Linked DNA regions of Homo sapiens: regions 2, 3 and 4 are each linked to region 1. The links come from fine-mapping of genetic effects on gene expression. A gene starts in region 1. Each other region holds a variant in brackets. All regions are shown on one strand. Distances are between the middles of the regions. Region 1 holds the start of PDE5A (phosphodiesterase 5A). Region 2 overlaps LOC105377397 (a long non-coding RNA gene). Region 3 has its middle 60 kb from the start of LINC01365. Region 4 has its middle 27 kb from the start of PDE5A.

Evidence for each region. PIP is the estimated chance that this variant, and not a neighbour inherited with it, causes the effect.
Region 2: its variant is fine-mapped to the expression of PDE5A in whole blood (TOPMed, PIP above 0.99).
Region 3: its variant is fine-mapped to the expression of PDE5A in whole blood (TOPMed, PIP above 0.99).
Region 4: its variant is fine-mapped to the expression of PDE5A in whole blood (INTERVAL, PIP above 0.99).

The regions. Positions count from the first base shown.
Region 1 is chr4:119,623,898-119,631,995 of GRCh38, reverse strand. It overlaps PDE5A (phosphodiesterase 5A), which reads left to right and starts at 3,192. Exons shown (of 21, transcript NM_001083.4): 1 at 3,192-3,476. The coding sequence starts at 3,325. It overlaps LOC107986192 (a long non-coding RNA gene), which reads right to left and starts at 4,206. Exons shown (of 1, transcript NR_165235.1): 1 at 1,241-4,206. RefSeq lists silencers at 2,859-3,258, 4,479-4,758 and an enhancer at 4,299-4,348.
Region 2 is chr4:119,692,743-119,700,853 of GRCh38, reverse strand. It overlaps LOC105377397 (a long non-coding RNA gene), which reads right to left. Exons shown (of 3, transcript XR_939161.4): 3 at 7,325-7,744. It also overlaps the pseudogene LOC124900920. Among named protein-coding and RNA genes, the nearest start is that of PDE5A, 68 kb to the right of the region's middle. The variant A/C (reference allele first, on the strand shown) is at 3,575.
Region 3 is chr4:119,740,815-119,748,925 of GRCh38, reverse strand. No RefSeq gene overlaps it. Among named protein-coding and RNA genes, the nearest start is that of LINC01365, 60 kb to the left of the region's middle. The variant G/T (reference allele first, on the strand shown) is at 3,808.
Region 4 is chr4:119,651,297-119,659,407 of GRCh38, reverse strand. No RefSeq gene overlaps it. Among named protein-coding and RNA genes, the nearest start is that of PDE5A, 27 kb to the right of the region's middle. The variant A/G (reference allele first, on the strand shown) is at 3,745.

The DNA of each region.
Region 1 (8,098 bases):
CATACATATACACATACATACATCATTGCTCATTTGTTTGTTATAAATAGCATTAACAGCATTTTTCAAGTTATATCCTGGGAGTGTTTATGATTTACTTATTCTTCAACTAATTCCATAACAAGATTTGAGGTGCTTAGAACAATTCATGCCAAGTTAAAACAAAATAATTGGGCAAATTGGGATAAAGAATAAAATGGAGTTGAAAAACAAGAGGCCCAGGTAATGTCAGTTCAAAATATGCTTACCTTTAACTACTTTAAATTTACAGGAGGTATAGTTACACATTTTGGCTGAATCTCCCAGAGACTAGAACTGTTTGAGACACTTCTGTTCCCCAATCCCTTGTGATATGTTTCTCAGGTAATAGGCCTTCACAGTAACTCCCAAACTATCATATATACCACACAGACTTGAGATTCACTATTGAGAGAATCTATGTACTGTTTTTCTTTTTTTTTCTTTTTTGTTATAGAGCCGGGGGTCTTACACTGTCACTGAGGCTGAAGTGCAATGGCACGATCATGGCTCACTGCAGCCTTGACCTCCTGGGCTCAATCCTCTTGCCTCAGCCTCTCGAATAACTAGGATTACAGGTGTGTTCCCCCATGCCTGGCTAATTTTTAAAAATTTTGTGTAGAGATGGGGTCATGCCATGTGGCCCAGGCTGGTTCAAACTCCTGAGCTCAAGTATCCTTCTACCTCTCCCTCCCAAAGTTCTGAGATTACAGGAATGAGCCACTGTGCCCAGCCTATAGATTGTTTTTCTTGAAGCAATTTTTCAGAAACCTTCCTGGTTTCTGATAATTTAACCCTTTCAGGTTAGGAGAGAAAAATGAACATTTTGATATTACCCACTGTCTTAGTCCATTTGTGTTGCTGTAATAAAATATCACAGACTGGGATATTTATAAACAATAGAAATTAATTTCTCTCAGTTCTGGAGGCTGGAAACTCCAAAATCAAAGTGCCAGCAGATTTGGCAACTGGTGAGGGCTGCTCTTTGCTTACAAAATGGCACCTTGTTGCTGCATCCTCAGCAAGGGTCAGTGCTGTGTCTTCACATAGTGGAAAGAATAGAAGGGGCCAACTGTCTCCTTTGGGCCTTTTTTTAAAAAGGCACTAATGCATTCACAAAGGCAGAGCCCTAATGGTCTAATCACCACTTAAAGGCACCTCCTCTTAATACTGTTGAATTAGGGATTAAGTTTCAACATGAATTTTGGAGGGAATACAAACATTGAAATGATTATACGTGTTTATTTAATCAAGTATCCAACAAAAGCAAATAATTCAAGCCCCAAATTCACTGCATCTTTAGTAGATAAGCAGAGTTTTAAATTACGATTGATCTCCTGTTAGGAGGAATGCATGGATTTCCACAAGAAAAAACTGTACTGAGGAGAAACTTTCCACAGTAATGTGCCACTTTTCAGTCAACGACAGACCACATATATGAGTCCCATAAGATAATACTATATTTTTACTGTACCTTTTCTATGTTTAGATATGTTTAGACACACAAATATCATTGCATTACAATTGCCTACAGTATTCAGTACAGTAATATGCTGTATAGATTTGTGGTCTAGGAGCAATAGCCTAAGTGTGTAGTAGGCTGAGCCATCTATTTTGTGTTAGTACACTGTGATGTTCAGAGAAGGATGAAATTGCCTAAGGATACATTTCTCAGAATGTATCCTGTTGTTCGGTGACGCATGACTGTATTCCATGAGCACTATAATCACTATCATAGTAACACATTAGGAGAGAATTCTCATTTCTAAATCCAATATAATTTATCACCCATTAGTTCATACTCTACTGCTTTGATTGCTTTTCTTTGGTTGTGGCTACCTGCATACAGCAGTAAAGTTTCAGAAAAACTGAAGTCGCAAAAGGTCAATTACTCAATGAAGGAAAGATAAACCATTGCATTGGGGGACTAGAAGATACTTTTAAAAGTTCTCAGATTATCAATTTAATGATGTGTTTCTATGTAGTGAATAATGCCTTAAATTCTTGCCAAGAGTATTTAGAAGGAAGTTGTCAGAAGTATATCAGCTAACTCATTTTTTTTTATATCACTGCTAATGGTGTCATTCACACATTGTGCAACCCATAATTCCAGATTTAATTCTACCAAAAAATATAGGTCATTGCAAAATGCCATATTAAAACTGCCAATGCATGACAGGAAGATGGGGATGCAGACAAAGCAAAGGATGACACCAATTCCTTTTTTAAAGAAGCAAGATAGGGATTGGACAAAAAGGCTGAGCCATTTTTAATGGATACTTTTGAGGGAGTGTTAATTCCAATTTAATTAAAATGATGCATTAATTTAAAATTGGGATAACTGGTTGCCCTCGACTGCACCTGGGTTGCGCCAGTGCTCTCGGATTAACCTAATTGTACAGAGGTGCCCTTGTTTTCTAACTTCATGCACAAAGCATTGGAAATTATTTGTTTGCTTTTTCTTTTCCAAGTAAATCTTTTTCCAGTTATGCATAAGGGAAGTTTGAGGCAATGGTTAAAGGCACTTAAGTTATAATTATTGCTGTTATCATTAACATTAAGCACGGGTATGGCTTTGTTGCAAGTTACCCACCTACACCTGCAAATCTCTCTTGCTAGCACACGCCCCAGCTCTCTCCACCCGCAGTGGTCCGTGGCTGGACCGCTTTAAGTCACTGAGCGGGCTGGGCTCTGAAGGAGGTCGGTCCCGCTCCTCCCAGACCCAAGCGTAGGGCTAGGGAAAAGCTAGGCGGGAAGGTCATTGCACTCCCAGGCCCCAGGAAAAGGGCCCAGGGTCTCATCATCTCTTACTTTCGGGCAAAACTTCCCACATCGCGACCTTCCCTCCCTGGGGCACTCTGAGAACACACCCAGTCACCTAGCGCGCTCCCCAGAAGTCGGCTTGGCACACAGCGCACCCCAGCGGCCGCGCGGCCTCCTTCCAGCCGCCGCCACTTGGCTTCCGGAGAGCTCGCCGGGCGCTGCCGCTGCCGCCGCCGCCGCCGCCTCCTGGGAACCAGGGGACTGAAGAGCCTGCGAGAGCGGAACACTGCCGGACCCCGGGTGGGGGGGGCGCAGCAGCTGCGCCTGGCCCCGCCCACCACACCTGGGCGCCCGTAGAACCGCGCGGGGCGGGGCGGGGCAGGAGGCTGGCCTGGCGCTCCGGCCGCTTTGTCGAAAGCCGGCCCGACTGGAGCAGGACGAAGGGGGAGGGTCTCGAGGCCGAGTCCTGTTCTTCTGAGGGACGGACCCCAGCTGGGGTGGAAAAGCAGTACCAGAGAGCCTCCGAGGCGCGCGGTGCCAACCATGGAGCGGGCCGGCCCCAGCTTCGGGCAGCAGCGACAGCAGCAGCAGCCCCAGCAGCAGAAGCAGCAGCAGAGGGATCAGGACTCGGTCGAAGCATGGCTGGACGATCACTGGGACTTTACCTTCTCATACTTTGTTAGAAAAGCCACCAGGTAAGAAGAGGACCCACGGAAGACCCGGGGCTGATTTCTCTCCCCTGTTGAATTGTGCCCTTCGTTCACCCCTGTTCCCAGGCCCTTTGCTTTTGAAGTAGGTCCTCGGTCCTGTTACGAGGTAGAAACCTCAACTCTAAGCGAGCACAGTCGAAAAACTCAAGTGTCGGATTTGATACAACTTGCTCACAAAGTTCAAATACAAAAATGTACTTGCCGACCTCCCACCCTCACCCCCGACCCTCTTGGTATTCCCCGGGAACATGATTATTTTCATACATCCGTGCTCACGGGCCTTCCCCTAGCCCCTCTCTAGCCCTCTGGTTCCCCAAAATCCAATCAGCAAAACCCAAACAGTTTCTGAGCCCCTTCCCTGCAGCTCCGGAAGCACCATTTCCAAGTCGGTCTTGATGGCTCCGCTCCTCCCCCGTCCCCCCTCGCCCTGGCCCTGGCTGGGCGGGGAAGCTGGGGTGAGGGACGAGTCCACGGGACAGCCCAAAGGCAACATGACGGAACCTTGCCAAAGTGAGTGCGGTTGCCTTTTCCCCCCTTCCAGTCTCCTGCTTGTCCCGCGCGCCTCCTTTCACTCGCTTTTCCGCCGAAGGCTGTGCCGCCAAAAGTAGAGCTCTGCAGAGGGGTTTGCGGCGTGCACACAAAGGGCGCAGGGGAGGCGCCGCCTGGAGCGGACCCCAAGGGGCAGCGCAGACCCCAGAGGCCAGCTCTTTCTGGTCCAGAGCCAAGCGCCGGGGCGGCCCTTGCGGAGGGCGGGGAGGAGGGAGCCTGTCCTTTTGGAGGCGGCTGCGCAGCGGGCAGTCGGGGCGCTCGTGGGAAACGCTCGCGGGAGAGTTGGGGAGGAATTGAGACTGGGAGCAGAGGGACAAGAAGAGTGGAGCAGAGAGTGCTTGGCGGGCGGGTGCCCCGAAGCCTGAGGAATTGATGCATAGTCGGGGTGCGTGGACTCCAGGACGCGCCCCTTTGCAGAAAGAGTCCGTGCCCCGCTGCCGCCTGCTCTGGGCAGCGGCCGTCGGGCAGCGGGTGCTGGCCGTCTTGGCCGGGAGGGTGACACACGCCCGGCAGTGATGGTCGAGGAGCCCGCCCGGGTTCGACGCCCGGGTCCCACTCGCCGGCGCGCGGCCGCGGCTCTGCCGGTCGCTCCCCGCCAGGGGGCGGCGCAGCGCGGGGCGAGCGGGAGGCGACGGGCGGCGGCGCGGAGGCCGGGGCCGTGAGGGAGCTGGTTCTGAGTCGCCGACCTCACCTCACCTCACCTGCGCGCGTTGTTGCCCCTACGGAGCCTCCTGGAGTCCAGGATCGGCGGAGTTCGAAAACGAACTTCCCACGTTTGCTATGTTGCCCTTTGGAGACAAAACAAGGTACTTCCTTCAGCATCCCCCTACGTCCCTTCCCACTTTTTCCGGGGGCGCGGCGGGTCTCGGGTGCTGGGTGGTGGCGCCCCGGTGGCACCAGTGGGACGATGTATCATTGAAAATTGACTGTATAACTTTTGTTGTTGTTGTTATTCTTTGCTCTCTTGCAGATGTATTAATAAGGGTCTTAAATTGGGCCCTTTTTAATCTTGTTTTGTTTTGTTTTGTTTTGTTTTTTTCCTAAGGAACATCCAGAGTTGGTGTCAATTTAGTCACTTTCAGGGTTTTTTGACAGAGGGGAAGGCTCCGGGATTAATCTTTTCAATTTAATAACCCAGCCCTTCTTTTAAAATCGTCTTCCCCCGCTTTCACCTTCTTCCTTCAAAATCCTAAATCTTGAGCGCCCAGAGGATAGCCCTGAAAGGGCACTTTTTTGCGAGTTTAGCGTGAGACACTAAGGCCATGGAGGTCTAGAATGATCGGTTGCTGTCGACTAACAGTTTTCAGGGGTCACCTGCCCCTCTGAGGCCATCTGCACCCACTTTCCTTTCACTCTGCGCATTCCCAGCCTTCTGCTCTCCTTGAATTACAGCGCATAGAATGATCAGGGGGCCAGAGAACCAGGCCGATTTTTAAAAGTATGTATTGGACCTGTTCTTTAGGCAGATTATAAACAGTTTAAAGAAAAAAAGTTATTGTTTAATAAATCAGCATAAATGTCCTTTCTTCGTTCCCTATTTTTCTTTTAAAGATGTAAACTAGGGATGGCTTGTTGGTCGTTTTTGACTAGTCATAGATAGGAACACTGCATTTTCAGAACCTACCAACACTTTGAAAGTGTAGCAACATTTTAATGGAAAATAAATGGAAAGAGCTGAGTTACATTTCTTTTCCCATTACTTTTTCTCCCAAGCAGCATAGGATCAAAATCCTATTTCTCAAATTTACCATGCTCACTGTAAAATTTAGATCATCTGAGGCTCTAAAAAAACTTTTAAAAAATTTTCGGTTAGAGTTTTTAAATTACAGTTGATGTTGGCAACAGGCTGAACACTTTCTGTGATATATATATGTATGTGTGTATACATATTCTTAAGAGGTTATGTTGAGTGTAAGTTGGAAAATGAAAGTGTAAAATATTTAATAGTGCAGGTCCTCAATTTTAAGAGTTATAATAAAGTGCTGAGAGTTGTCAGAGTAAAGAATATAACCTAAGAATTTGTGTGTAGCCAGAGGTCTTTCATGAAACAATATTCCAATTTGGTTTTATATTTGGTGGCATTAACAGGAGACTTAAAATGTGAATAAGAGGATGGACATTTGTTGATTATAAAAATGCAAACCACTAACCCCAGTGTGGTTCACATTTTGTGGTAAAAACTTATTGCATACGTTTTAACTTTACAGCTAAGGATTTTTTTTTTTAAAAGTAGGAGCTCACATTACTTTGCTTTTCCCCTCTTTTTACACTTTGTAAGTGTAAAATGAATATTGTATGTGATTCAGGAAACCCATGAAACAAAATAGTTCTGTAGATGCATGCGGCATGTTTTAAGATTTAAAATATATTTATATTCACCCAGATCGTCCATCTGCACCAGTAATCAGGCTTGCTGATAAAAACAATTTCTGCATTATTGTTGTCATTCGACATTCATGCATGATTTTCCATCCTTTTCTCAGACTAAATGATCTACACTCAATGGTAGTTATTGAACATCAAGGTTCTGGCATTCCTAAATTCTCAAACACCTGTGAATTTGGGTTGACCTTGAAAGCATTTATGCCATTATATTACATTGTTTACTATCACTGTCTTCAAGTAGAGAGCTACGCATCTTATTAAAAGCTATAGGTTGGGCCTGGCACGGTGGCTCATGCCTGTAATCCCAGCACTTTGGGAGGCCGAGGCGGGCAGATCACGACGTCAGGAGTTCAAGACCAGCCTGACTGACCAACATGGTGAAACCCCGTCTCTACTAAAAATACAAAAATTAGCCAGGTATGGCGCGCGCCTGTAATCCCAGCTACTAAGGAGAATCGCTTGAACCCGGGAGGCAGAGGTTGCAGTGAGCCAAGATTGCTCCACTATACTCCAGCCTGGGCAACAGAGTGAGACTCCATCTCAAAAAAAAAAAAAAAAAGCTATAACTTGGAGCTTTTTAGTTATCACAACCTGTTTATGTCCATTTGAAGGTGTCAATTGAATGATTCAGAACATAGTCGGTTGGCATAAAAATTAATTTGAGGCCAATAAATCACATCTGGAAAACTCCCAGGTCACTATTGTAGACAATTTGCAGTCCTGAAGGCCTCAGCTACTGTGTTAATTGAGGGCTTTAATGCGTATGCCTTTTACAACTGAAGCTTTCCTGGTGCTAATGCTGCTTAACAGCTGTTGTTATTCTTGACAGCATATTAGAATAAAGTTACCTTTCATTAATTACTAATCAGCTCTGTGATTGTGGGTGATGTTTTAGGTCATTTAATATTGTTAAGGATGACATGATTGACTTTATTGCTTTGTTTTGTACAGGCAAAAGCTCGAGAATATTTGGCATATACTGGAAATAAGAGATATTAAGTGAGGGCAAGTTTTTATGACAGCTTGGATCAAAGTCCAGAAACAGACGTTTTACACTCCCATATAGCTTTCTATGATAGACTTTATTTGATACTGCAAAGCTGTGCTGAATTAATTGAGGTTCCTGGTCCTGTGTTTGGAATTCCGTCCTTCATTTTTTTTCCTTGTAATTCTTCTCTCACTTCTAAAAGCTGTAGCATTTTTATTGCACGGTATTTACAATACAATCAGATTATGTATATAAATATTGCTATGTATTTTTTTAAATTATTGTTTCTATAATTATATAGGAATATAAACTTTCCACAATTTTCAGACAAATGAATTGTTAAGCATATTTTGTGAGGCAGTTGTTAGTGTTGATGATAATAAAACCCTCTGAGCATTGACCCAGTCTAACTTTGATATTGTTTATAGTATTTTTATAATGGTAATTCTGGTGCAATAATGGCCTTTTTTTCTTATGTTGTTCATAACCAGGGTCCATATAACCAGCTCTAAGCTGCTTTTAGTGTCCTTGAAGCACTCTTCTGGATTGCATTCTTCCTGCCTGGAGAAATCCATAGGAGCCCCTGAAATAATGTTTCTCATTGCTCTTCTATCTCTAGTGTTTTCAAAGTTTCAAATTCAGACCCATGTTAGAGCCTAAACTACATGATTCCTAAAAATGTGGT
Region 2 (8,111 bases), 69 kb before region 1:
TTCTTCACATATGGAGGAATTTTTTTCCTGGATGTTGTACATTGTAGTTTTACATTTTAGGGTGCTGTGTTTTGTTATATCTTTTAGTGTGGATCTAGATAACCTTTACTGTAGTGCTCTTTTAGCCTCACTTTTAATGAGAGGTTCTTCTAGGTTTCTGCTACATGCATCATATATTCATGAAAGTCTCTTCACTTTGGCTTGTGGGAATTCAGATGATTCCCAGACCTTTGTAAGCTCCAGGGATTGTTCAGCTTACAGCTCCTTCATAGTTGTTTCTCTCTCTGAAATTGCTCACATCCAGTGATGTCTTTGTAGATTGACATTCAGCCGAAGACTCAATGGAATTCCTATGAAGCTTCCTGGAACACTTTTTCTGCATAACTTCTTCCTTCTCAGTAATCTGCTCCACAAATCCTAACTGCCTTACCTTCCCCAGATGCCTATTTCTCTCTCCTCAACTCACTGACATCACCAAGCTTTGTTTGGATTTCTCTTCCTAGTGCATGCTGCAATGGAAATTAACTGCAGGTAGAAAGTCTGGGCAAAGGTATGGCTCAACTCATTTGTTTCTCTTTCCTCAAGGTTCACCGTCTCATGCTACCTACTATCAAGTATCATAAAACAGTTATTTCCTCAACTTTGTCTAGTTTTCTAGTTGTTTATGGATGAAGGGTGATTATGTATCCCCATTATCTCCCGTGGCCAAACTCTGACATAATTTAGAATGGAGTTTCATTTTAGAAAATCCTGTCATACTCATAGGCATGGGCAAAGACTTCATGACTAAAACACCAAAAGTGATGGCAACAAAAGCCAAAATTGACAAATGAGATCTAATTAAACTAAAGAACTTCTGCACAGCAAAACTGTCATCAGAGTGAACAGGCAACCTACAAAATGGGAGAAAATTTTTGCAATCTATCCATCTGACAAAGGGTTAATGTCCAGAATCTACAAGGAACTTAAACAAATTTACAAGAAAAAAAAACCCCATCAAAAAGTGGACAAAAGATATGAACAGACACTTCTCAAAAGAAGACATTTATGTGGCCAAGAAATGTATGAAAAAAAGTTCATCATCACTGGTCATTAGAGAAATTCAAATCAAAACCACAATGAGATACCATCTCACACCAGTTAGAATGGCAGTCATTAAAAAGTCAGGAAACAACAGATGCTGGAGAGGATGTGGAGAAATAGGAACGCTTTTACACTGTTGGTGGGAGTGTAAATTAGTTCAACCATTGTGGAAGACAGTGTGGCAATTCCTCAAGGATCTAGAACCAGAAATTCCATTTGACCCAGCAGTCCCATTACTGGGTATATACCCAAAGGATTATAAATCATTCTACTATAAAGACACATGCACACGTGTGTTTATTGCAGCACTATTCACAATAGCAAAGACTTGGAACCAACCCAAATGCCCATATGTGGTACATATACACCATGGAATACTATGCAGCCATAAAAAAGGATGAGTTCATGTCCTTTGCAGGGACATGGATGAAGCTGGAAACCATCATTCTCAGCAAACTAACACAGGAAGAGAAAACCAAACACCGCATGTTCTCACTCATAAGTGGGAGTTGAACAATGAGAACACATGGACACAGGAAGGGGAACATCACACACCAGGGCCTGTCAGGGGGTAGGGGACTAGGGAAAGGATAGCATTCAGAGAAATTCCTAATGTAGGTGATTGGTTGATGAGTGCAGCAAACCACCATGGTACGTGTATACTTATGTAACAAACCTGCATGTTCTGCACATGTATCCCAGAACTTAAAGTATAATACAAAAAAAGAAAATCCTGTCATACTTTTGAAATATAAAAATAAAATTGAAATGTACCTTCAGCTGTAAAAATAATAAAAAGCATTTATTATTTGATCTCATAATCTCTGGAGTCCAATTCCTTCTACTAGCCAGCAAAGTGAATAAAATTGACCAAGTAAAATTATAATAACTGAGGTTGTTTTGATTTTAAAATATTTGGGGGAGGAAACCAGTCAACATAAATTAGTCACAACTGTTTCTCCACCACTACAGAGTCTCTCCTAACTCTCTTTCCTCTATAACTGACATTGGGGTCCCAGTCAGCATGGTAGCAAAGAGAGAGACCTTTGGTCCATGCGCTGTCTTTTGCTGGGATTTTCCCTTCCCTCTCTCATCTTGGATATCCTACACCAGTGCCTTCTGAGGTCTGACTAGTCTGGTCCTGTCCTGTGTTTTTGAGATGTCATCTGTGGATGCCTCTGGATCTTGTCATGCTCCCTAGTTCTAAAGTCCCTATAGTGGCTTTTGTCTGCTCTACTGATTATCTAAATCTTTTGTCTGCTCTACTGATTACCACCCTTGTGGGTGACCCTGCAGCCATCAGCTGATTTTCCTCACCATGACATAGAATGCAGAATTCTTTCTGGTGGCCTTGAAACACTTCCTCAGGCATTGCTCTTCTGCCTAGAGGCTACATAGTACCAACACCAGTCTAAATGCAGGGCTTTGCTAAAGAGTTTACCACATTCCCCCTTCTCTCTCCCAAGGGCACTAGTATCCAAATAGGTGAGTCAAGTCACTCATAACTATAACTCTCCCATTCTCTTTCTCTAGTTTCTAAATTCTACTTCCCTTAGTGAAAGGGAATTCTCCTTTCTTGTCATAAAGAAACTTCCCCTGCAATATAGTCTCAGTTTTCTTTATGCTTTAGCGTCATGTAAATACAATACTCTAAGACTTGAAAGAACCAAGCCCACGCTTTTGAATGTAAAGGGAAATATGGGGGATTCATAAAACGCTTTTGTTCTTTAACAAAGAGTAGCTTTATGACTAGTCTTGCAATCGATTAAAAAATGTCAGCCTGGGGACTCAGAGAAGAATAAAAGACCTGTTTGTTCTGTATCTACCCTCACCCTGAATCAATACATGCCATTCACCAGGTGATTGATTCAACAAATGAGGCAGCTACCATACACCTACGGACTAAGGAACAAAAAATAAAGAAAACACTGATTTAATACCTGAAAAATATTATTTTTTACCTTTTCTATAGTAAATCTTTGCATGAGGATTGACTTCCATCATATCCTTCTCTTTTCTCCTAGCATTCACATGGCCTAGTTGTAAAAAGTAGTAAGATCTAAGATGCATAGATTACGTGAGGTATGTCAGGCACTGCTCTCATTGCTTTAAACTCATTTAATCCCCACAACAATGCAGTATGGGTTATCGTTACCCTCATTTTACAGAATGGAAAGCTGAGGCCCAGAGAGATTAAGTAACTTGCTCAAGATCACACAGACACTTTATCTTGGTTAAATTAGTGGATCTTTAATCCTCAGCATTTTCAGCTATAAAGTAAGGATAACAATTACAATAATATAAATGAAGTATTATGTATAGTATTTCAGCAAAATCTTCCCAGATGCAGATGGCCTGGGTTCAAATTCTATGTTTCTGAGTTACTGTCTGGTAACCCTGGGTTCCCTGACCTCTCTGTACCTCAACTGTAAAGCAGGAAAGATGATAAGTATATTTTCCTCTGAAGATTATTATGGGGATAAAATAAATA[A/C]ACATAAGACTTGAACCAAAGCCTAGTACACAGCAAATTATCAATAAATGTTACTGTTTTCAAAGGCCCACCCTACCTTATCAGAAATCCTGGTGGCAAGGTGAATTTTGGAATTTGGACTATTGTACACAAGGGATAGAGTCCACATGGAATTATGGAGTATTACCCCAGTGAGGTCACAGAAAACACCATGACCAAATATTAAGATTTTTGCCTCAAAATGCATGAATATTCACTCTAAGTGAGATAAATAAAGACTAAAAACACCCTCTGGCAGTTCAGTTCAGGTTTTGCTACTGAATCAATCATTGCAAAATGTAAGTTTTCAGAGGCTTTTTATTTTAGAATTTCAGATGGGGTATTTGGGGCTGTATTATTTTATATTATGAGAATTTAAAAAGGTGACCTATGTAAGCCAAGCTAAGCACAATGCCTGGCATATAATAAGCTCTTCATAAGTGTGCATTTGCCATCGATTTTGAAATTAATACCATTAGCATTAGCATTATATTAAATTCACAATATAGCTACAGTTAAAACAGCATCTTCATTGTTATTTTACATATTCTCCTAGTCATTTCCCCAGATGACTTCCTGTAAAAGTTTTCAGATTTCCTTATTCTATCATATTTTTGCCTGGGCATGAATCTCATCTATCCCCTTTATTTCATTTGCCTTACTTGGTGACCAGTCCCTTATTTGACTCCCCAGCCTTGTCTCTGTGATAGGATCAGTCACAGTTAAGGAAACAGCATAGTCTCATAGTAAAAAGGAAGAAAGAAAGAATATAATAATGGCTGTCATTTATTGCACATTTGCCCTGGGATCTGTGCTAGACACTTTATATAATTCTCCCATTTAATTCTCCCCACTACTTAATAAAGCAGGTATTATCACTCTTATTTTACAGATTGAGAAACTGAGACACAGAGAGATTAGATGATTTGCCTAAGGACTTTAGGAAGAAGTCCTTGAATTTGTTCGTGTGCTTTTTTTTTTTTTTGTCCACTTCTATGAGAAAAGATCTTAGTTTATTTACATTTTCTAAAAGATACACACAGTTGCAAGGTTTAAGAACCACTGAGACTATAGATGTTGTAAAAATACTTGATATTTGTGCAGACTAATGGGTGCTCTTGATTCCCAATTCAGATGGGATTTATTTACAAGTATCCCCCTCAGACCTAGGCAGTGTAGCTCCTAGGGCACTCAGCAAAGAGAGGGATTAAAAGACATCCCCAACAATAACACTTTGCCTATCAGAACCACAATTGCAGCCTTGGCTACTTAGACCACTTTCAGCATTTTCCCCACAACTTCTATTTCATTCACTCCCTAAATCTGATTGTATACTCTCTCCAATCAGTCTCCTCACCAGATTAAAATCTCCTTTTAAACCAGAGGCCATGTCTAATTCCTCTTTCTATCCATCCCCAAACTACAATGTTTTACACATTGTGACTTCTTAATATGCTTTTGATGAAACAGAACTAAAGCTGTATCTCAAGGGATATCTCAGATGGGCATTTCAACCTCAGTTGTGTCATTTCTCACAATAAGGACACGATTGAAAGATTAAAATTCAGCTAAGGCTTTTACCTTTCTCTGAGCTCCCAGAAAGTGAGGACTCTAAGATTTCTTGTCAAATAACTGTAAAAGAAAATTTTAAACAGAGTATTTCCTTAGGCTAATATCTGCTTAATTACTCCTATCTACCAGTCTCTGAGATCAAAAAATGTACTCTGTTTTTCCTCTAGTCCCGATATGTGTGAGTTTTGTTTGTTTATTCATTCATGTATTTATTTTATTTCTTAGAGACAGAGTTTTGCTCTATGACCAAGCTGGATGATAGTGGTGTGATCATGGACTGGAGTGTGGTGGTGCAATTCTATTTCACCGGGCTGAAGCACTCCTCCTGCCTCAGCCTCCCAAGTAGCTAGGATTATAGGTGTGCACAACCATCCTTGGCTAATTAAAAAAAAAAAATTATTTTTGTAGAGACAGGGTCTTACTATGTTGGCCAGGCTGCATGTGTGAGGTTTAGATGTATAGAAGTCAGTGGTGGATAGAAACTGTCAAAACCCAAGCCAATTCAATAATTTTTTTTTTTTTTTGAGATGGAGTTTCACTCTTGTTGCCTAGGCTAAAGTGCAATGGCACAATCTCAGCTCACTGCAACCTTCACCTCCTGGGTTCAAGCTATTCTCCTGCCTCAGCCTCCTGAGTAGTTGGGATTGCTGACATGCACCACCGCACCTGGTTAATTTTGTATTTTTAGTAGAGACGGGGTTTCTCCATGTTGGTCAGACTGGTCTCAAACTTCCGACTTCAGGTGATCCGCCCACCTCGGCCTCCCAAAGTGCTGAGATTACAGGCGTGAGCTACCACGCCTGGCCGCCAATTCGAGAATTTTTAAAAAATAATAATAACACAGACAATCCCCCTCATTTCTGTATTTTCTCATATAGCTTTTCTATGAAACATACATATAAAAATGATAGAATAAAAGCTTAGTTATAATGATATGACTTCATCTCAATCGTCTGTGGAACATGGACGATAAAATTATTTGAGTCTTTCCGTTCTCCAGAAATGATCTTTGTCCCTTTTCCTTCAGTAAGGAGTTTGTTTGCGTGAAAGTATGAGTCTTTATAATACACTGGCACTATTCTTTTTGCTTTCTTTGAAGACAATAAACACTCAAATTTATGTTTCCGTATTCATTGAAGTATTTGCTGGAATCTCATGTTCACATGGAGAAATTTAGGGGCAGAAGAAAGTAGAGGGTGGGAAAGTTCAGGAACGTGTCTTACCTGTTTTTAATTAGACCACAACTCACAGATCAATGAAAATAGAAGTGTTTCAAAAGATAATTTTTATATAACTGAGAAAATGTCAGTTGTCTACATGGAAAAAGTATTATGAAATCTTGTGGAGCGGCTGTAGGAAGAGGCAGGGCACTAAAAGAGGCCCTCAAGCCTCTGTTTGGTGTTACCACTATTTATATGGTATTTGATGTGTCAAACCATATGACCCCTCTATTGAAAAATGTGAATAAATTTTGCATTTTTAGTTAATAAGCATTGAGAAATAGAAGGTGTTTCTTTTTATTCTTTCTTTTTTCTGTTTCTTAAGGTGATATCTATTTACCTCACTACATATTCTGGGTACCACAAAGATACCAGAGATTTCAAAATAGAAAATGTACGCCTAGCCTTAACATTGGCCCGTAAAACTCCTCAAATTGCATCTTGTAACTCTTTTTCAAGTGAGTCCATTGAAAAGGTAATATCAATTTAATCTTACATAGTTTTTGTTTTTATAATGAAATACTCCCAAAAATCTGAGAAAATTCTTAGTTTTTTCTTTATCTGAGAACCCATTCTATAATAATAATACACTTGATCTTAGCCAAAAGGCCAAGAAGCGATCTATAGTAATAATAGACACATACTGACATATTTCTTAATTTCTGAATAAAAAACTAAAACTTGGAATAGTGAAATCAATTTTCTAAAGTCACTCAGTAAAGGACAAAAATTTTGGAGAAAAAGAGTTTCTTTTCACTTTACAAATAGTAAATCCAACTGAAGTTAAAGAATTTTTTAAAAATGTAACAAAGTTTAGTTTCTGTTTCATCCTGTGTGCAGTAAACATTAAACTCTAAAACTCAGATATATTCACTTTAATTTTCTAAAATAGATCTATCAATGTTAAATATTCAGATTGTTACACACTTGTTTGCATATCAACTTTTAAATTAAATTTTTATTACAAAGCTAATAAAAAAAGAAAAGAGGGAGCATTAACAAAAAAAAAAAAAAAGTGGTACATTCTAGTTTTCCAGTTGAAAGGAAGAGCACTTCCTTTTCTCATGACAACAGAAGCTCCCTGGATAGTTGGTTCACATCTGATTAGAATTTGTTTCTCCCTCCAGCAGAACAGTTATGTTGCTTCTCCCAGCAGCTGATTGGGTCAGTCCTCCTCAGGGTTCTCAGCTGACCCCAGGTTATTACATTCCCAAGGCTGAAGACTTTCCTTTTTTCCAGTACTTAAACTTCACTTCTCTCTTTAGACATGCAGGCTCCTTCTTCTGAGAGGTAATGTAGAAAGACTGCTGAATTATGGCTCTTTCAAACTGAACACTGATCTGTTCTCTCTCTTTCATTCCTGGGAATAAATGGAGAAAGATATGTTTAATTCCTGATGTGACTTTGACCTCTATTGTCTCAGTTAATAGAATGGACATTTGAAATTTTGCACTAAAAAAATTGTTACAGTTATTTTATTTCAGCTTTATTTCAAGAAAGCAAGCATGCCATTGTATTGAAAATTGTAAATAACATTGGAAAATAAAGGAATCATTGAACAAGAATTAAGTCACTAACCCAGTTTATTTTTAATACTATAGATATAGATTCTACAAAAGAATGACATACTTCCCTAGTTTACATAGGAATGGACTAAGATGTGTTTGGTGAGGGGTCATTTTTGTGGCTTACAACTCTGGAGGGTTATTTTTGCAGCCTGTGGAACC
Region 3 (8,111 bases), 120 kb before region 1:
CCTGCTCATTCCTCTCAAGGGCAATTGTGTGAGAGTTTCAGTGGGAAATCATTAGACATCCACTTTACAGTCCTTGTTTGGCTCCTTCTCGCTACTTTTTGTTTCCTAATCTTAAAAAAAAGAAATCTTTAAAAGGCACTTATTTTTCTTCAGTTTATAATATAAAAAAGACTGCATTGACATGGTTAAATTCCCAGGACCCTCAGTTCTTTAGGGATAAACTAAATGACTGATATTATCACCTACACAAGTGTCTTAAATTTGATGGAGCTTATGTTGAGATATAAAGTTTAAATTTTTTACCTTTACCTTTTAATTCCATTTTTCCACAAAATTTTTGAAGTTCCCTGTTATACAATTTAAGTTCTGCTGTACTTAATTAATGCACAAAATTTTATTATGAAATTTTTTGAATACTTATAAGTTGAAAAAATTTTACAGTGAAGACCCATACCATCAGCACTTAGATTCTACCATTAACATCTTAACTGTCTTGTTTTATTCCACATCTACCAATCCCTCCCTTCATCCATTAATCCATCTTATTTGTTTTATGCACTTCAAAATGAATTGAAACATCAGTCCACTTTTTTCCTATCTCAGCAAGTATTAGTGTTTTTTGTTTGTTTGTTTTTTAAACATGAACAACAAACACATTTATCTCCATTGCAGAAGACTGTCAGATGCAGGGCACATATATTTGATGTAGGAGCTGGGTTCCTGCAAATTCAATTTTCTGCCCATATCTAGAAAATACGCAGAGAAATAGCTAAGTAATATCTTGATGTCCCATAAATGGGACCATGTTTACACTGCATATGTTGTACAAACTTGTCTTATTGACTCCTTTGGCTTTTGCTTGTCTCTCCCATGACCTGGTCCTCCCTTCCATACCCCTCTGCTCCTCCCTTCCAGTAAATAATGGAAAAAGCCAGCCAGGTATGCCATCTGTCATATTTCTCTGCATTTTCATAAACCAGAAAGGAGGGATTTTTTTAAAAAAATGCTTTGCTTTACAAAAATTGAACCATAGTCTCTTACTCTGCTGTATGAATTACCAATACTTTTTGCTAATTTTTTTATTTGGTTGTCTTTCTCTTACTTTGTTGACACATTATAGGTGTTGATTCTTTTTGTATCATTTCTTAGAAACATTCTTTCCCAATTTAGTATGTGTATTCTACCTTTATATATGGTTTTATATATTTTGTCATAATTTTAAAATATTGTGTATAACCAGTTGTATCTATCTCATAGCTTCTGGGTTGCCTATCTTTAAATCTCCTCCATTAAGCCATACATATAAACATATATTCCAAAATTTCTTCTAAAACTTACTTTTTGTTTTTGCTGATTATAATGTGAAATACAAATTCAATTAATACCTGATTTAATTCCGTATACAAACTCCATTTTGAATGCCTACAATTTTGTTTTTTGTTTGTTTTTAATTATGATGCCACTCAGACTGCCATTGCAAAAGTCATCAATTACTATTCTAGAAAGTGCTGATTTCCCCTGTGTTATGGTTAACTGCGTGCATGTCTCCTTTCCTCTTCTACAATGTAAGGCCCTTGAGGACAGATGCCTGGCATGCATCTTTATGTCCTTGTGCTGGTTCTGAGCTTGTTTGCTAATGGGTCTATTTCTCATCTTCTGCTCTGAATCTCGGAGATGCCCGGGAAGAGGGCGGCTGTCTGCTGCCTGCATTTTCTCTGCTCCCTCATTGACTGCCTCAGCTGGGTTCAATTACTAGGAGGCAATAGTTGAAGACTGAAGAGTAGGAGGGAAGGAGAAGCCAGGGCATTCCTCCCCTCTCTCTGAGTCAGCCAGCATCTCTGGAGACAGCCCACTCTCCTCTATGATCCCAGTTCTTGCTCAGGACAACCTACTCTAGTTCCAGGATCTGCCTGTAACTAGGGTCCCTAAGCTCCTGTATGACAGCCTCCTCCTTCTGTAACCCCAGAAGATAGTGGCTTTCTGGTGTTGCTAATCTCTGGTTAACCTCACTGCCCGCTCTTTGGTTTCTCAGAGTTCCCATCACTTGCATAACCCAATTCCCTGGTTTAAATTCTCTATAGTTTTTTGGTTGAGCCCTGACACACCCTCCAACAGATTTAGCCATGTGCTTTGATTAGAGAAAAAGCTCAAATAAATATATAGTTTTTTTTTTTTTTTTTTTTTTTTGAGACAGAGTCTCACTCTGCTGCCGTGGCTGGAGTGCAGTGGCATGATCTTGGCACTGCAACCTCTGCCTCCCAGGTTTCAAGCGATCCTCCTGCCTTAGCCTCTGGAGTAGCTGGGATTACAGGAGTGTGCCACCACACCTGGCTAATTTTTGTATTTTCAGTGACACAGGGTTTCGCCGTGTTGCCCAGGCTGGTCTTGAACTCCTGACCTCAAGGGATCCACAGCCTTGGCCCCCAAAGTGCTGGCTTTACAGGCATGGGCCACCGTGCCTGGCCTAAATATACAGTTTTTTAAAGCAATGATTATGACGGCTTTCCACACTTTAGCACAATTACTGGGAACTGTTCATTCTTACCCATTCGACAGCATATGCAATATAATTAACCAAAATTGCTAAGTGAGTATCATCACATAACCACTACCTCCAAAATTAGAGCACTCAATTTCCCCATCACCAGAGCTATCTTCATTAACAGATTTTATGGACCCTGGACTTAGTTCAGTTTCTGTGTTCTTCATTGCCATTCAACAGCATCTTTTCACCTATTTCTACTAAATGTATAAATTATTGAAATCTGTCCTCTTCAGGCCTCCATACTCTCTACTATCTAAACTGACCTGTCAACACTTACTAAGTGACTCCACAAATTTTTACTAAGAAGAGAGTATCTGCTAAGCACTATGCAAAGCAGAAACTATAAGGGTCACTAAGATATAGTCTCTCTGAGAGCTCAGTCAGCTGGCAACTATAATGCAATGTGACAAAGGATATTGTGGTAGACAGAATTCTGAGAGGGCCCTCAAGATCCCCTATCCCTGGTATACATACCCTGTACAATCTCTTCCTGTTATGTATGGACAAGCCTTATGGATATAATAGGATATTTGCTCCCTTGCTTAGGTTACATTATATGACAAAGGTAATGGATAGTCACTCCTGTGATTATGTAACGTCACTCTGTCATAGAAGGTTGAGAAGAGAGATTCTCCCACTAGCCTTGAAGAAGCAAATTGCCATATTAAAGAGAGGGCCATGCAGCAAGGACCAGCACTGAGAGTGGGCCCCGGACAACAGCTGTCAAGAAAACAGGGACATCAGTCCTACAGCTGCAAGGAAATGAATTCTGCCAGCAACCTGAGGGAGCTTGGAAGCAAATCTTTCCCTAGTCATGCCTCCAGATGAGGACTCATCTGGCCAACATCTTGCTTTTGGCCTTCTAAGACCCTGAGCAGAGGACATAGCTAAAGCATTCTGAGCTCCTGCTCCACAGAAACTGTGAGAGGATAAAGTTTGTTTCTTAAAGCTGTTATGTTTGTGGTAATTTATTACACAGCTGTAGAAAACAAAAGCAGATTTGATGAGGTAAGCAGAGGCCATCATTAGGACCTACAAGAAAATACCTAACCCAGTCTCTATGGTCAGGGATGAATTCCTAAAGGAAGATGTAAAGCTGAGACCTGAAGACTCTGCATGAATTAGTCCAGGGAGGGAGAAGGGAATAGGAAGAAGTGGGGAGAGAGGTATTCCAAACATAAAACCCTGGAATTGGGTGCAAGAGAGAGAGAAAGACAGAGAGAGAGAGAGAGCCTGATCATGAAATCTTCTTTAGATCTCTA[G/T]TTGTTTGCTAGTTACTTCTGGCTCCAAGTCATGTTTAAACCATATTCTCTAGGACTCTATAACCTATGCTTATATTTCATCCAACCACTCTCATCTCATTCCATCATTTCATTCTGTACCCTAACCACCAGCCTTCATTTGTGTTAGGAAAGATCTGTGTTGTGTTGCTGTTGTCTTTTCATTGTAATTCCTATCCCAGACATTTTGCCAGAAATATCCTAGGTGCAGAGAACAGCTTCTTTGACTCTCAATAGGGCTCCCCCATCTTTTCGTATAATAACCATTTGATCATCTCCAGGAAGCTGTCCTGAAGTACTTCCTCTGAGTCAGCGGCTCTCTGCCCAGAATCCCACACCTCATCCTCAATGATGAGCTCCTGTAATGACTGTGCACGTTTCTGCCCATGGTATCCCTTGCTAGCATGCCTCTTCCTCAGCTTCTTGAGAGCTAGGACCATATCCAAGTTATGTTCCATCTTATTGTAGTTTCTATTATCATATCCTACACAAATACCTGCTGACTGGCTGCTTCATTTTCCTACAAGTAAGATTCAATGAGAGGCTGGACTTTTCAAAGCAGAAAGCAAATCTCTCTCACCCCTAGCCTCCAGATTACCATTCGGAACTTCTTTTCTCTTGAGAAAGAAGTATATATGCTTGCTTCAGCTCCCTTGAGGACTAGAATAACAGTAAAAATATACTTTTTGAGTAAGGACTAAATAATTAATAGAGAAATTGGCAATGGACTAAAAATTTCATTTTTGTCTTTAGTACCAATCAAGTATATGTATAGCTAAGCTTTTTTGAGTGCATATGATGTGCCCACCATTGTGTAAAGCACTTTACAAGGATGACCTTATCCCATTCTCACAGCAAACCTATGGATATATGAAGAATTTCCCATTACACAAAGAAATGAAAACGTAGAGAAAGATGTAGTAAATATCAAAGCAGACACTCACCCCTGCCGTCTGTGCCTACTGCCCATGTACTCCACCACTGTAGTCTCTTCAGGTCTTAACCTGGTCATTACTCCATGCAGAAAGTCCTTCCTGACCAAGGCCCTAACCAAATAATGTCGAGCCTGGGAAGCAGTCTCTTCCTCAGGAGACTTCACATGCTAACACAGAGCTAGGGCCTGAACTGAGATTGCTTAAATTTCAGTCACTGCCATTTATCAACCTGATGATCTTCAACTTTAATTACTTCACTTGTAAAGTAGGGATTATAATAACAATCTCATGAGGTAGCTGTGAGAATTCAATGAGGTAATGCATGTAAAGGTTTATTCCAGAGATTAGCAGTTAGTAAGCACTCAAGAAATATATTATTATTACTACTCTGATCCTCCAGAGAGCTGAAGCAAGCATATATACTTAGAGTAATGCACTTCCTACTAGTAAAAGAACAAACTCCTTCTTGACAAGAATTCTTTTCCAGGCATTAAGATGACGAATGTCAGATATGCTGTAAGTTGAAATGTTCCTCTGAAATATTATCTTAAGGTACTTTTCAAATTATTTCTAATAGAGGAAAGGGCTGTTAGTATTTTTACCATTATGATTTTTAATGGTGAACCTTGAACAACATTGTTGTAAACTAAGAAATACTTCAGTTGATTCCAAAATCCACAATAACTTTGCAATAAAATAAATAGAAGGGTGTTCAAGAGAAAGGCTCAGAGCAGCTGTACACCCAGTACATCAGACAGTGAGCAGTATGTTCATAGCGGGAGGTGGAGTTGGCTTTTTCATTATTTTCCATGTAGATTATGAAGGACAAACCTGAAAATTTTTCAGAGCTCCAGTATTTTTCAGTTAAACACTGGAAATAGTGACTATAATTCATATTAGAGATTTCCTTTTCTTTAAAATACAGATGTGGAGAGAAAATTTCAGCATTTTAATCTTTTCTAAATATGGTCTCCTTTAGTACAGTGGAAAGGACTTGACTGAGAGCCAAGAGATGTGGGCTTCGATGCTGGCTCTGCCTTAACTAGTTGTGTGGGCTTGGCAAGCTGCTCCACCTCACTAGACTCAGCATCCTTATCTTTACAAATGAGAGGACTGGGAGCCAGGTGCGGTGGCTCAAGCCTGTAACCCCAGCACTTTGGGAGGCCAAGACAGGAAGATCACTTGAGGTCAGGAGTTTGAGACCACCCTGGCCAACATGGTGAAACCCCATCTCTACTAAAAATACATAGCTGAGTGTGGTGGCAGGTGCCTGTAATCTCAGCTACTCAGGAGGCTGAAGGAGGAGAATCACTTGAACCTGGCAGATGGGAGGTTGCAGTGAGCCAAGATCTGGCCACTGCACTCCAGCCTGGGCGACAGAGCGAGACTGTTTCAAAAAAACAAAAACAAATGAAAGGATTGGGAGCCCAACTGGATGATCCCACGAGTTTCTTCCAGCTTTCCTATCCAGTGGAATAAATAACGTAGTGTCTCCTATTTATTTACTTTGGCATCTTTTATTTTTAAAGTGGACAATCACCTTTAAAATATAATAGCTGTATTACATGAAAGAGGGCACTGTGAAAACATGAGTTTAAAACATCTTGGAACAGCATCTTGGTGGCCACTAACTGGAGGAAAGCAGACTGTAATTAGCAGCCAGAGTCAATACAAAATTAAGTCATATGGAAGAGTATTCACATAGTTTCCTAGGCACAGAAATGATACTTTACATTAGAATTATATTTCAAAATATTTAACAACTAGGTGAAAAAATAAAGCAAAGTATATTATAAATAAAAGATATTTTACATGCAAATCTCAGTTGTAGCAAGCAAAGCCTTCCCACAAATTATTTTTACACATTCAAATTAGATTTTAATTCATAACAGCCAAAATTTCCAATGAGCTTACATATATATTTGTATAATACTAAAGTATGTAAGTTATTGCAAATAGGCTTAATGAATTTCAAAGCATTATACGTTTTTTTAAAGTAGCCTTCTGTGAAAGTACTTCTCCAACCCAGCTGTATATTCTTGCTTCAGGAAACTGTGCAAGTCCAGGGAAACACATTGATCTTTCATGCCTCAGTTTTATTACCTGTGAAATGGGAATACAGTAACACCATATTCCTCTGAATCTTCATAGAAGAGTAGTATGCTCCACCAAGGTAGATTGGAAATAGGAATTAGGAGTAACTATCAATGTCTAGCACAGGGGTCCCCAAATCCCAGGTCACAGATTGCTACCTGTCCGTGGCCTGTTAGAAGCAAGGCCACACAGCAGGAGGTGAGCGGTGGGCAAGCAAGAGAAGTTTCATCTGTATTTACAGCCACTCCTAATCGCTTGCATGACCACCTGAGCTCCACCACTGTCAGATCAGCAGCAGCATTAGATTCTCATAGGAGCGTAAACCCTATTATGAACTGTGCATGTGAGGGATCTAGGTTGCATGCTCTTTATGGGAATCTAATGCCCATGATCTATCACTGTCTCCCATCACATCACCCCGAGATGGGACCATCTAGTTGCAGGAAAACAAGCTCAGGGCTCACACTGATCCTACATTATGGTGAGTTGTGTAAATATTTCATTATATATTATAATGTAGTAATCATAGAAATAAAGTGCAAGTGCAAAATAAATGTAATCACTTGAATCATCCTGAAACCATCCAAAAATTGTCTTCCATGAAACCAGTCCCTGGTGTCAAAAAGACTGGGAACCACTGGTCTAGCAGCTAATGAAAGTCATTTCAAAAGTGATAGAATGGCATTTCCCTTGACGACTCATGTGAATTTTACTGGGATCCTCCAAAATCTCTGATCAACTCCTGATTTATGAATTGAGTTTCTGAGTTTTGTTGCTGTTGTTGGTGTTCTTGTTTGTTTTGCTTTATTTTTGTATTGTTTTGTTTTGTTTTGTTTTCTTCCAGGAACTCTTATGAGCAAATGTATTAATTTGTAGGCATATTTTGAAACCGCATTTTTATTTTTATTTTTTTTTTGAGACGGAGTCTCGCTCTGTCGCCCAGGCTGGAGTGCAGTGGCGCAATCCCTGCTCACTGCAAGCTCTGCCTCCCGGGTTCACACCATTCTCCTGCCTCAGCCTCCCAAGTAGCTGAGACTACAGGCACCCACCACCACACCTGGCTAATTTTTTGTATTTTTAGTACAGACGGGGTTTCACCGTGATAGCCAGGATGGTCTCGATCTCCTAACCTCGTGATCTGCCTGCCTCGGCCTCCCAAAGTGGTGGGATTACAGGCGTGAGCCACCGCACCGGGCCGAAACTGCATTTTTCTAATCATGTTCTACTTTCTGTCAGAAGGTTATCTAATCCCTAATT
Region 4 (8,111 bases), 27 kb before region 1:
TTAACTGTGTTATCCCCATCGCTAACTATATACTGTCATATAACACTTACAAGTAGGATGGATGGGAAGATGAAAGCTAGAAAATATTTTCCCCTCTAAATTAACATAGGTTAAATCTTAATTCAGAAGTTTGCATTTGGGAGGCTTATACTGCAAAAAAAAAATTGAAATATAAGTGACAATCTTAGGAAGAATAAGAAATAATTTAAAATATGACAAGCTCTATGAAACATTAAAGATGCTTAGATAAGAAAAAGGATTGTTCTGTTTTCTGAAATGTGTAACTCCCACTTATTTCAGCATAATATAAAATGAAATATTCACTTGCTGATTTTAGAGAGAATGGAACTTTTTATAACCCTTTTATGGGAGGATGCTATCAAATCCTGTATAACCACAATAAGATATCAGTTCATACTAAGACAGCTATAATTTAGAAGATGGACCATAACAAGTGTTGGCAAGGATGTAGAGAAATTGGAACCCTCATACATTGCTTGTGGGAATGTAAAATAGTGTGATCATTATGGAAAATGATTTGGTGGTTCCTCAAAAAGTTAAACATAGATTTGTCATATGACCCAGCAATTCTACTCCTAAATATACAAGAAAATTTAAAATATATGTTTACACAAAAACCTGCACATGAATGTTCATAGCAGCATTATTCATAATAGCCAAAAAGTGGAAAAATCAATTGAAGAATGAATAAACAAAATGTGGTATGCTCTTATGATGAAATACTACTCAGTCCTAAAAAGAAATAATACATGTTACTACATAGATGAACCTTGAAAACATTATATTGAATGAAAGAAACCAGACACAAAAGGCTACATATTGTATAATTTCATTTATATTAAATGTCCAAAATAAGCAAACTATTAAGACAGAAAGTCGATTAGTTGGGCTGCATGGGAGGCAGTGGGAAGTGACAACTAAATGGGTCAGGATTTATTTTGAAAGTAATGAAAATGTTCTGAAATTGGATAGCGGTGATGGTTGCATGATTTTGTTTTAGAATATACTAAAAACCATTAAATTATATACTTTATTTGTTTGTTGTTTGTTTGTTTATTTTTGAGACAGAGTACCCAGGTTGGAGTGCAGTGGCGTGATCTCGGCTCACTGCAACCTCCACCGGGTTCGAGTGATTCTTGTGCCTCAGCCTCCAGAGTAACTGGGACTACAGGCATGCCCCACTATGCCTGGCTAATTTTTGTATTTTTTGTAGAGACAGGGTTTCTTCATGTTGGCCAGGCTTGTCTCGAACTCCTTACCTCAAGTGATCCACCCACCTCAGCCTCCCAAAGAGCTGGGATTGTAAGTGTGGACCACCACACCCAGCCTTAATCATACACTTTAAAAAGGTGAATTTTGTGGTATATGAATTATATTTCAATTTAACAGAAAAACTTGTATATGTGGGAAGTAACTAATTTTAGAAAAATAACTATTATCTTTTAGAAAAAGAAATTTTGTCTTATAATCTAAACTTCTTCAGCTTATAAAATATCCATCAAAAGGATAGTGCACATCAGCTGTTCCCTGTTCTGTAGAAAAGATGAAATAAAAATAAAAATGCTAAAATTATAAGCTTCATAATACATGGTTTCTTCCTGTATAAATTTTCCTGTCCAGTGGAGTAGGCAGACATACAGACAAATAATGACATGACATGAGATACATGGAAATAAATAAAGAGATCTATACAAGGTATGATAACAGAGGAGAGAGGATGTACATCTGAGTGGCATCAGGGCTTAAGAAGCATCAAAGATAGTATAATTTCATCTGAGTCTTGATGAAAGAATGCATATTCACCAGACACACAAGGTGAAGGCCAAGCATTTCAAGTTGTGGTAACACATGCAAGACAGAGATCTGGAAGAGCATTTCAGCTTCATAGATCTGCAAGTCTTTCTGTTGGGCCAGAACATAAGAGCTTTTGCAGACAAGCTGATGAGGGTTAAGAGGTATTATTCTTACAATGAAAGCAACCATAACCTCCCTCATGGGAGATAGAGTCATCAAAGATATTGTTCAAGGATGTGAAATATTCAGATTTCAATTTAGATAGATTATGCTGGCAGAAATGTAGGGCAAGAATTGGAGGAATCCAAGAATGGAGTCCAGGAGATCCTTAGAGAATAAATGGTTAAGGCAAGGAAATGATGAAGTGGAATAAAGATAAGGTGACCAGCTACAGAGGTACTTAGAAAGGCATGTGAACTGGGGAAAGAGGAGGAATTGAGAATGACTCATCTCTGACTTAGGCAGGAAGAACAAGGTTTGTTTGTGTTTTTTGAATTTGTAATCAAATTGCATTTAAACTTTAATATGGAATTTGAGGTGTCTGTTCCAGGTATAAGAAACCTAGAAGGCAGAGCTTTGAGTTTGCAGTTCAGTGAAGAAAGTCTGGGCTGGAGATATGAATTTGAGAGGGTTTAGAATATACCTCAAGTAGTGGGAATGAATGAGGTTGCCCAGGAAAAACAGAAAAAAGGACAGAAACCATCAGAAGCCCAGATTAGAGGTAAGACAGTACAGAGATGGCACATATTTCTCAATAAGTATTTGTCAAATAAATGAGCATATAAAAATCATATTTGCTTCCAAGGATAGCAGACAGGGTGAGGGGAGGAATATGGAATCAAAAGAGGTGCTATCAAATCTTTTCTAATTGTTTGTATATCACAATGAGAAATAAAAATCCATTTTTCTCAACATTGTCTGGACATATTATGTTGGGAGTTTTCAGCTCAGAGATGAGATTGCCAGAAAATAAGTATGAATAGAGAGAAGGGAGCTGAAGACTGAGTCCTGGTCAGGAGGCAGAGGCAGCTCAAGCAACAAAGACAGACAAGGCAGCCAGTGAAATAGGGCTCAAAGCAGATCAGTGTAGTGATTTGAAAACCAAATGAAGAAAATGGTGAAGGGATGGTCAGCTGTGCCAAATGCTGCTGATAGGTCAAGTTAGATGAGGACTGAGAATTTTATGCTGGATGTGGCAAGACAGAGGTCATTTGTGACCTTAAAGAGTGCTTTTCTGTGGAGTGGAAGGGAAGAAAGCCTAACTGCAGTGAGTTCCAGAGAGAGAGTTCTGTGAGAGAGTAAAATAAATTTGGCAAATACCTTAAAAAGAATATGTAAAAAGTTACATAGATGGGTAAATAGATAGCTGGACTCCAATTTTGCTTAAATGGGATTTACATATCCAGATAAGATTATGTAAGATTTTATTAAAATTCTACAAACTGACAGGTATAGAAAGATATTTGTTTTGAAACATTTTGTAGAAATATTGCTTAAAAAAATCAAGGAGGTTCAGGTAAAAGACCCAGGCAGAGAATGAGGAGGAGAAGAAAAGAGAAAACAGGGAATTCTACCATAAAGGGGGAGCAGAAAAATGGGCAAAGCTGAGGTGGGATGTGGAGTGGAGGGAGGGCTCTTTATAAATATAAATAAATATATATAATATATATTACGTGTAATATACACACACACATACATATATATATAAAAGATTGGAAGGTATCACAGCATGTATTGATGCTTTGGGGATGAAATAAAGTGTGATTATACAGAAGAGGCAGGGGATCAGCAAAGGCTCACAGAAATTAAGGAGGAACAGGACCTGGTACACAAGCAGAGAGGCAAGAGCCATGCTTATCCCCTAGAATGGCAGGAAAGGCAGAGCATGTGGGTCCAGCTGTAGGAAGGGTAATAGATTTGGGGGAATGT[A/G]ATTTTGCAGATAAGGAAAAAAGAGAGTCATAAATAACTTGCCAAGAACCAGGAAACCAGAATAGCTAATTTAATATCCATCTCAAAATTAATGTGGCATATGTTAAATGTTGATCTAAATGGGACATAGTATCATTATTTAAAAATAATAGTATTATCTTTGTAAAGTAGTTCTAGTCTCTTTGTAAGTGTAAGAACAAAACGCTATAAAAGTTTGAATATAGGTGGAAGCAGTTGGTTTTAACATACCAAATAATGAAAGCATTTACATGGGAATCCATGTGAAGGAACTTCTAATACAACTGCAGGATTTCTATGGTCAGTTGACTAGCCTGACGTTAAACAGGAAGCCATCATAGCAATATTTATTTTAGGGATACATATCCAAATCAAACAAGCTCAGAGGGATACACTTCCTTGCAAAATGAATGGAAAATAAATAGTCTAATAGCTATCTTCCCAGTAATAGTATATTTTCACAAATCGCTTTTAAATAATGACGATTTTAGATAGGAAGTATTCAAAATTCTTCATCAATGAATACACAAATAGATGAATAAATCTTAAAAAAACATTATGGATCCTATGAATAGTTGAATTATTCTCAATAAATGACTTACCTGCCCTTCTAGAACATTGCCCGTTTGGGTCCTAAAGCAGCAAAAACAGTTTTATAAATTCTAAATCCTTTAGCTTTTGTAAAATCATAATAATAATATACGGGATAAATCTATCTGAATAGAGTCACATTTTTACTAGATACTGGGAAAGGCTTGAACAAGCAAGGTGATTTGGATTTCAAAAGGCATTTAGGAGATATTTTATCTCTTAAATTTAAACTTAATAGTGGATACGATTATCATACCTATTCAGGTTTTTACTGACTTGTTTTGCAACTACATTTTCTTTACAGTTAATAATTAGGTTTCCTTTAAATTAAAAGGTTTGGATGCTGTTTCTACCTTTTATAAGGGGATAATGTGGCTTAAATAATCTGGGCTTTTAAGTCCAACAGGGAAAATAATTGTATTTAAATAAAGCACTTTGTATATAGTGATAGTCAATAAATATCTGCTAATTTGGTTTCAACATTGTAGCTATTTCACATGATGTAATAAATGTTTAACATAATGAACTATGAGTTCAAGGATGAGTTGGAAAACAGTTGCTATAAGATTCATCAGGGACAACACAGTGAAAAAATTCTGACCAACAGATTGGATGTCCTACTTTTTATTGAATTATTTAAAAGATAAATTTATTGTTTATTTTAGTAAATGCAAAATATTAAGACGAAATCTCTCTGGAATTCCAAAAGCCAATATTCTAGCTTTCATAAGAGCGGGATTAGTTTTTACCACTTTACTCCAAATAAATACGCCATGAATACTAGTTGGGATGGAAAATAAGCAAACTTAAGAAGACATAAAAACTAATTGCTTTTTGTTTCATTTTTGAGATGGCGGTCTCACTCTGTTGCCCAAGCTGGAGTGCTGTGACCAATCATAGCTCACTTCAGGCTTAAACTCCTGGGCTCAAGTGATTCTCCTGCCTTAGCCTACCAAGCTTTTAATATATTTTTTAAGAGATGGGGATCTCACTATGTTGTCCAAGCTGGTCTTGAATGCCAAGCAATCCTCCTACCTCAGCCTCCTGAGTAGCTGGGATTACAGGTTTGAGCCACTGCACCTGGCCCAAAAATTGCTTTAAAAAATATATATAGTAACTTGATTATAGGCCATAAGTAATCATTTAACAGATAAAAACTTTTAAAGTTTTTAAGTAAATTAGGTTCCTATTTTATACTCTATAGTATATTCAAGGCATGAGCTTACTTTTGGAATATAAATATAAATAAAATGATAATTCACAAATTGCTAATTGCTCTTCCCTGCTAGGTCTTTGAACAAAATGCACATGGCATTTTAGGTTAATTGCTTAAGATAGTCTCAATTTGAAACCCCATATTGATAGCTCTGTGATCATTTAAATTCAGAATATCTTTTTTAAATTATGTATATTTTCATCATCTACTTAAGGGTCAAATGTTGTTTTTGAGCTTAAAAAGTATCATTCCTAATTGAAATAAATTTTAATGGCTGTGATTCCAGTGGTCTTTAAAAGTGCATTAAAAGTAATTTGTGGTCTTGGCTTAATTTGTTGGCTTTTTAAAATCTTTTAAGCCTTTTTAAAAAAATTGTAGTAATTCCATATGGTGTTAAAATATGCAAAGGTTATACAGGAATTCATACATAAATTATGTACCCATCTTCACTCTTCACTTTTCTTTGCCAAATAAATTATTACTTGAGTTTCCTGCTATCACAGGATACATATAATTTCACAAAACATACAATATACAATGTTAGGGAACTAGAACTTGATGACTTCAGATGCACAGGCATATTTGAATTGCTAAGTTTTTAAACTAATGTGGTCTTCAGAAGGGCTGTATTTGACTTGGCAGGCCCCTATGTATAAACTTCTGGGTTTGCAAGACAGTCCTACCATTTTGATACCATGAGTCAGGCCTGTCTTTTTTTAATGTGTTGTATTGACTCAACACCAGAGTTATATTTACAGCAGAACTGTTGATTAGAATAAAATGTGGATGGTGTATCGGTTAGAATAGTTTCACCTACAAATAACAGAAAGCCCAACTCAAACTAGCCTAAACAATCAGGTATTAATTGGCTTCTCGTCTAGAAGAGAGACTGGAAATATTTTACTTCTGGAAGAAGAGAAGGAGGGCAGGTGATTTTATTCTGTGGTTCTAGCTCATTTCTCTGTTCTTAATAGAAGCTTCATGTTCAGGGTAGTAGCAAAACAGCTATAGAAGGATCCTGACAATGTTCGAAGAAGAGGGTCACACTGAGAATCTCTCTCATTACAATGATGAATGCTTCTCAAAGAATCCTTTGAAAATCCACCCTAATATTATTAATTGGGTCACACATCATCTTCTGTACCAATCACTGGCTCTAGGAATGAACTTAGCCTTAGATACAGCAAAGTCATCCCTGGATCCAGCAGTGAAGTCAGGTCCTCCTTAGGCCCATGTGAGGTGTGAGACAGTAGAAGATACCTGCATAAGGCCTGGATATTGTTAGATGAAGGAAAATAATGAATGCCAGTAGAGAGCAGAAATGTCTATGTCAAATGGTGATTGGTGGTCACATGTAAAATGTAGCCCTCCAAAAATCAAAAGCAATACTCTTCCATACATAAAGGATTTTTATTCTGTAGCTGTAGAATGACTCAGAGTTGGGAGACTTTTTGCAATTCCATCTTTCAAGTTCATGGGGTGCTTTTAAACTTTTTTTGAAAGGGGATACATACCAGGTCAGTCATTCTGTAGCAACTATTTTTTAAATCAGTCTGTAACTTTGGAAATGGTATCAAACATTCCATTTGTTTCCCCTATTTGTTACTGTGCATTTCAAAGTATATATTTGCTAACCTTTATTCAACCAAACTTTAACAAGCACTTCCTATATTTAATGCATAATACTGGGCGTTTTTAAATACATCTATTATACATGTTTGACACATGTATGATTCATGTTAAATTGGTAGAGGAGGTGGAGTTTAAGATGGATATGCTGAGCTACTTGCTAATAGGAATGAGTGATTTATTGTCGCAAAATAAGAGATATTCAAATTGTTGTTACATTACATCTTCTATTTATATTATATTTTGATTTTGTCCCTAGACTAGCTACATTTAAGCATCCTACTAGTAGTATTCATACTTCACTTGTCACTTGATTTGTGTGACCTTAATTGATGTTTATACAACCCATTATATGATTAGAGATCATCCTCATAAACATCTAGAAGAAATTCTTAAGCTCTGTAAACCTACTTCCTCATTTATAAAATGGAAAGAAAATCTACCTTACTGAATGTGGGAAAGTTTAAATGAGATGAGGTGTGTAAAATCTTAGGGCCATGTCTGACATAAAGTATTCCCTCAACAGGCCAGGTGCGGTGGCTCACGCCTGTAATCCCAGCACTTTGGGAGGCTGAGGTGGGCTGATCACAAGGTCAGGAGTTAGAGACCAGCCTAACCAACATGGTGAAACCTTGTCTCTACTAAAAATACAAAAATTAGCCAGGTGTGGTGGCGCATACCTGTAATCCCAGCTATGCAGGAGGCTGAGGAAGGAGAATCATTTGAACCTGGGAGGCAGAGGTTGCAGTGAGCCAAGATTGCACCACTGCACTCCACCCTGGGTGACAGAGCAAGACTCTGTCACAAAAAAAATAAATAAATAAAAAATAAAAAGTGTTCCCTCAATAAAAGATAAGCAACTTTTGGGAAATGCCTATTGATGCAGACTCCCAATTAAAGAAGTTAACATTCT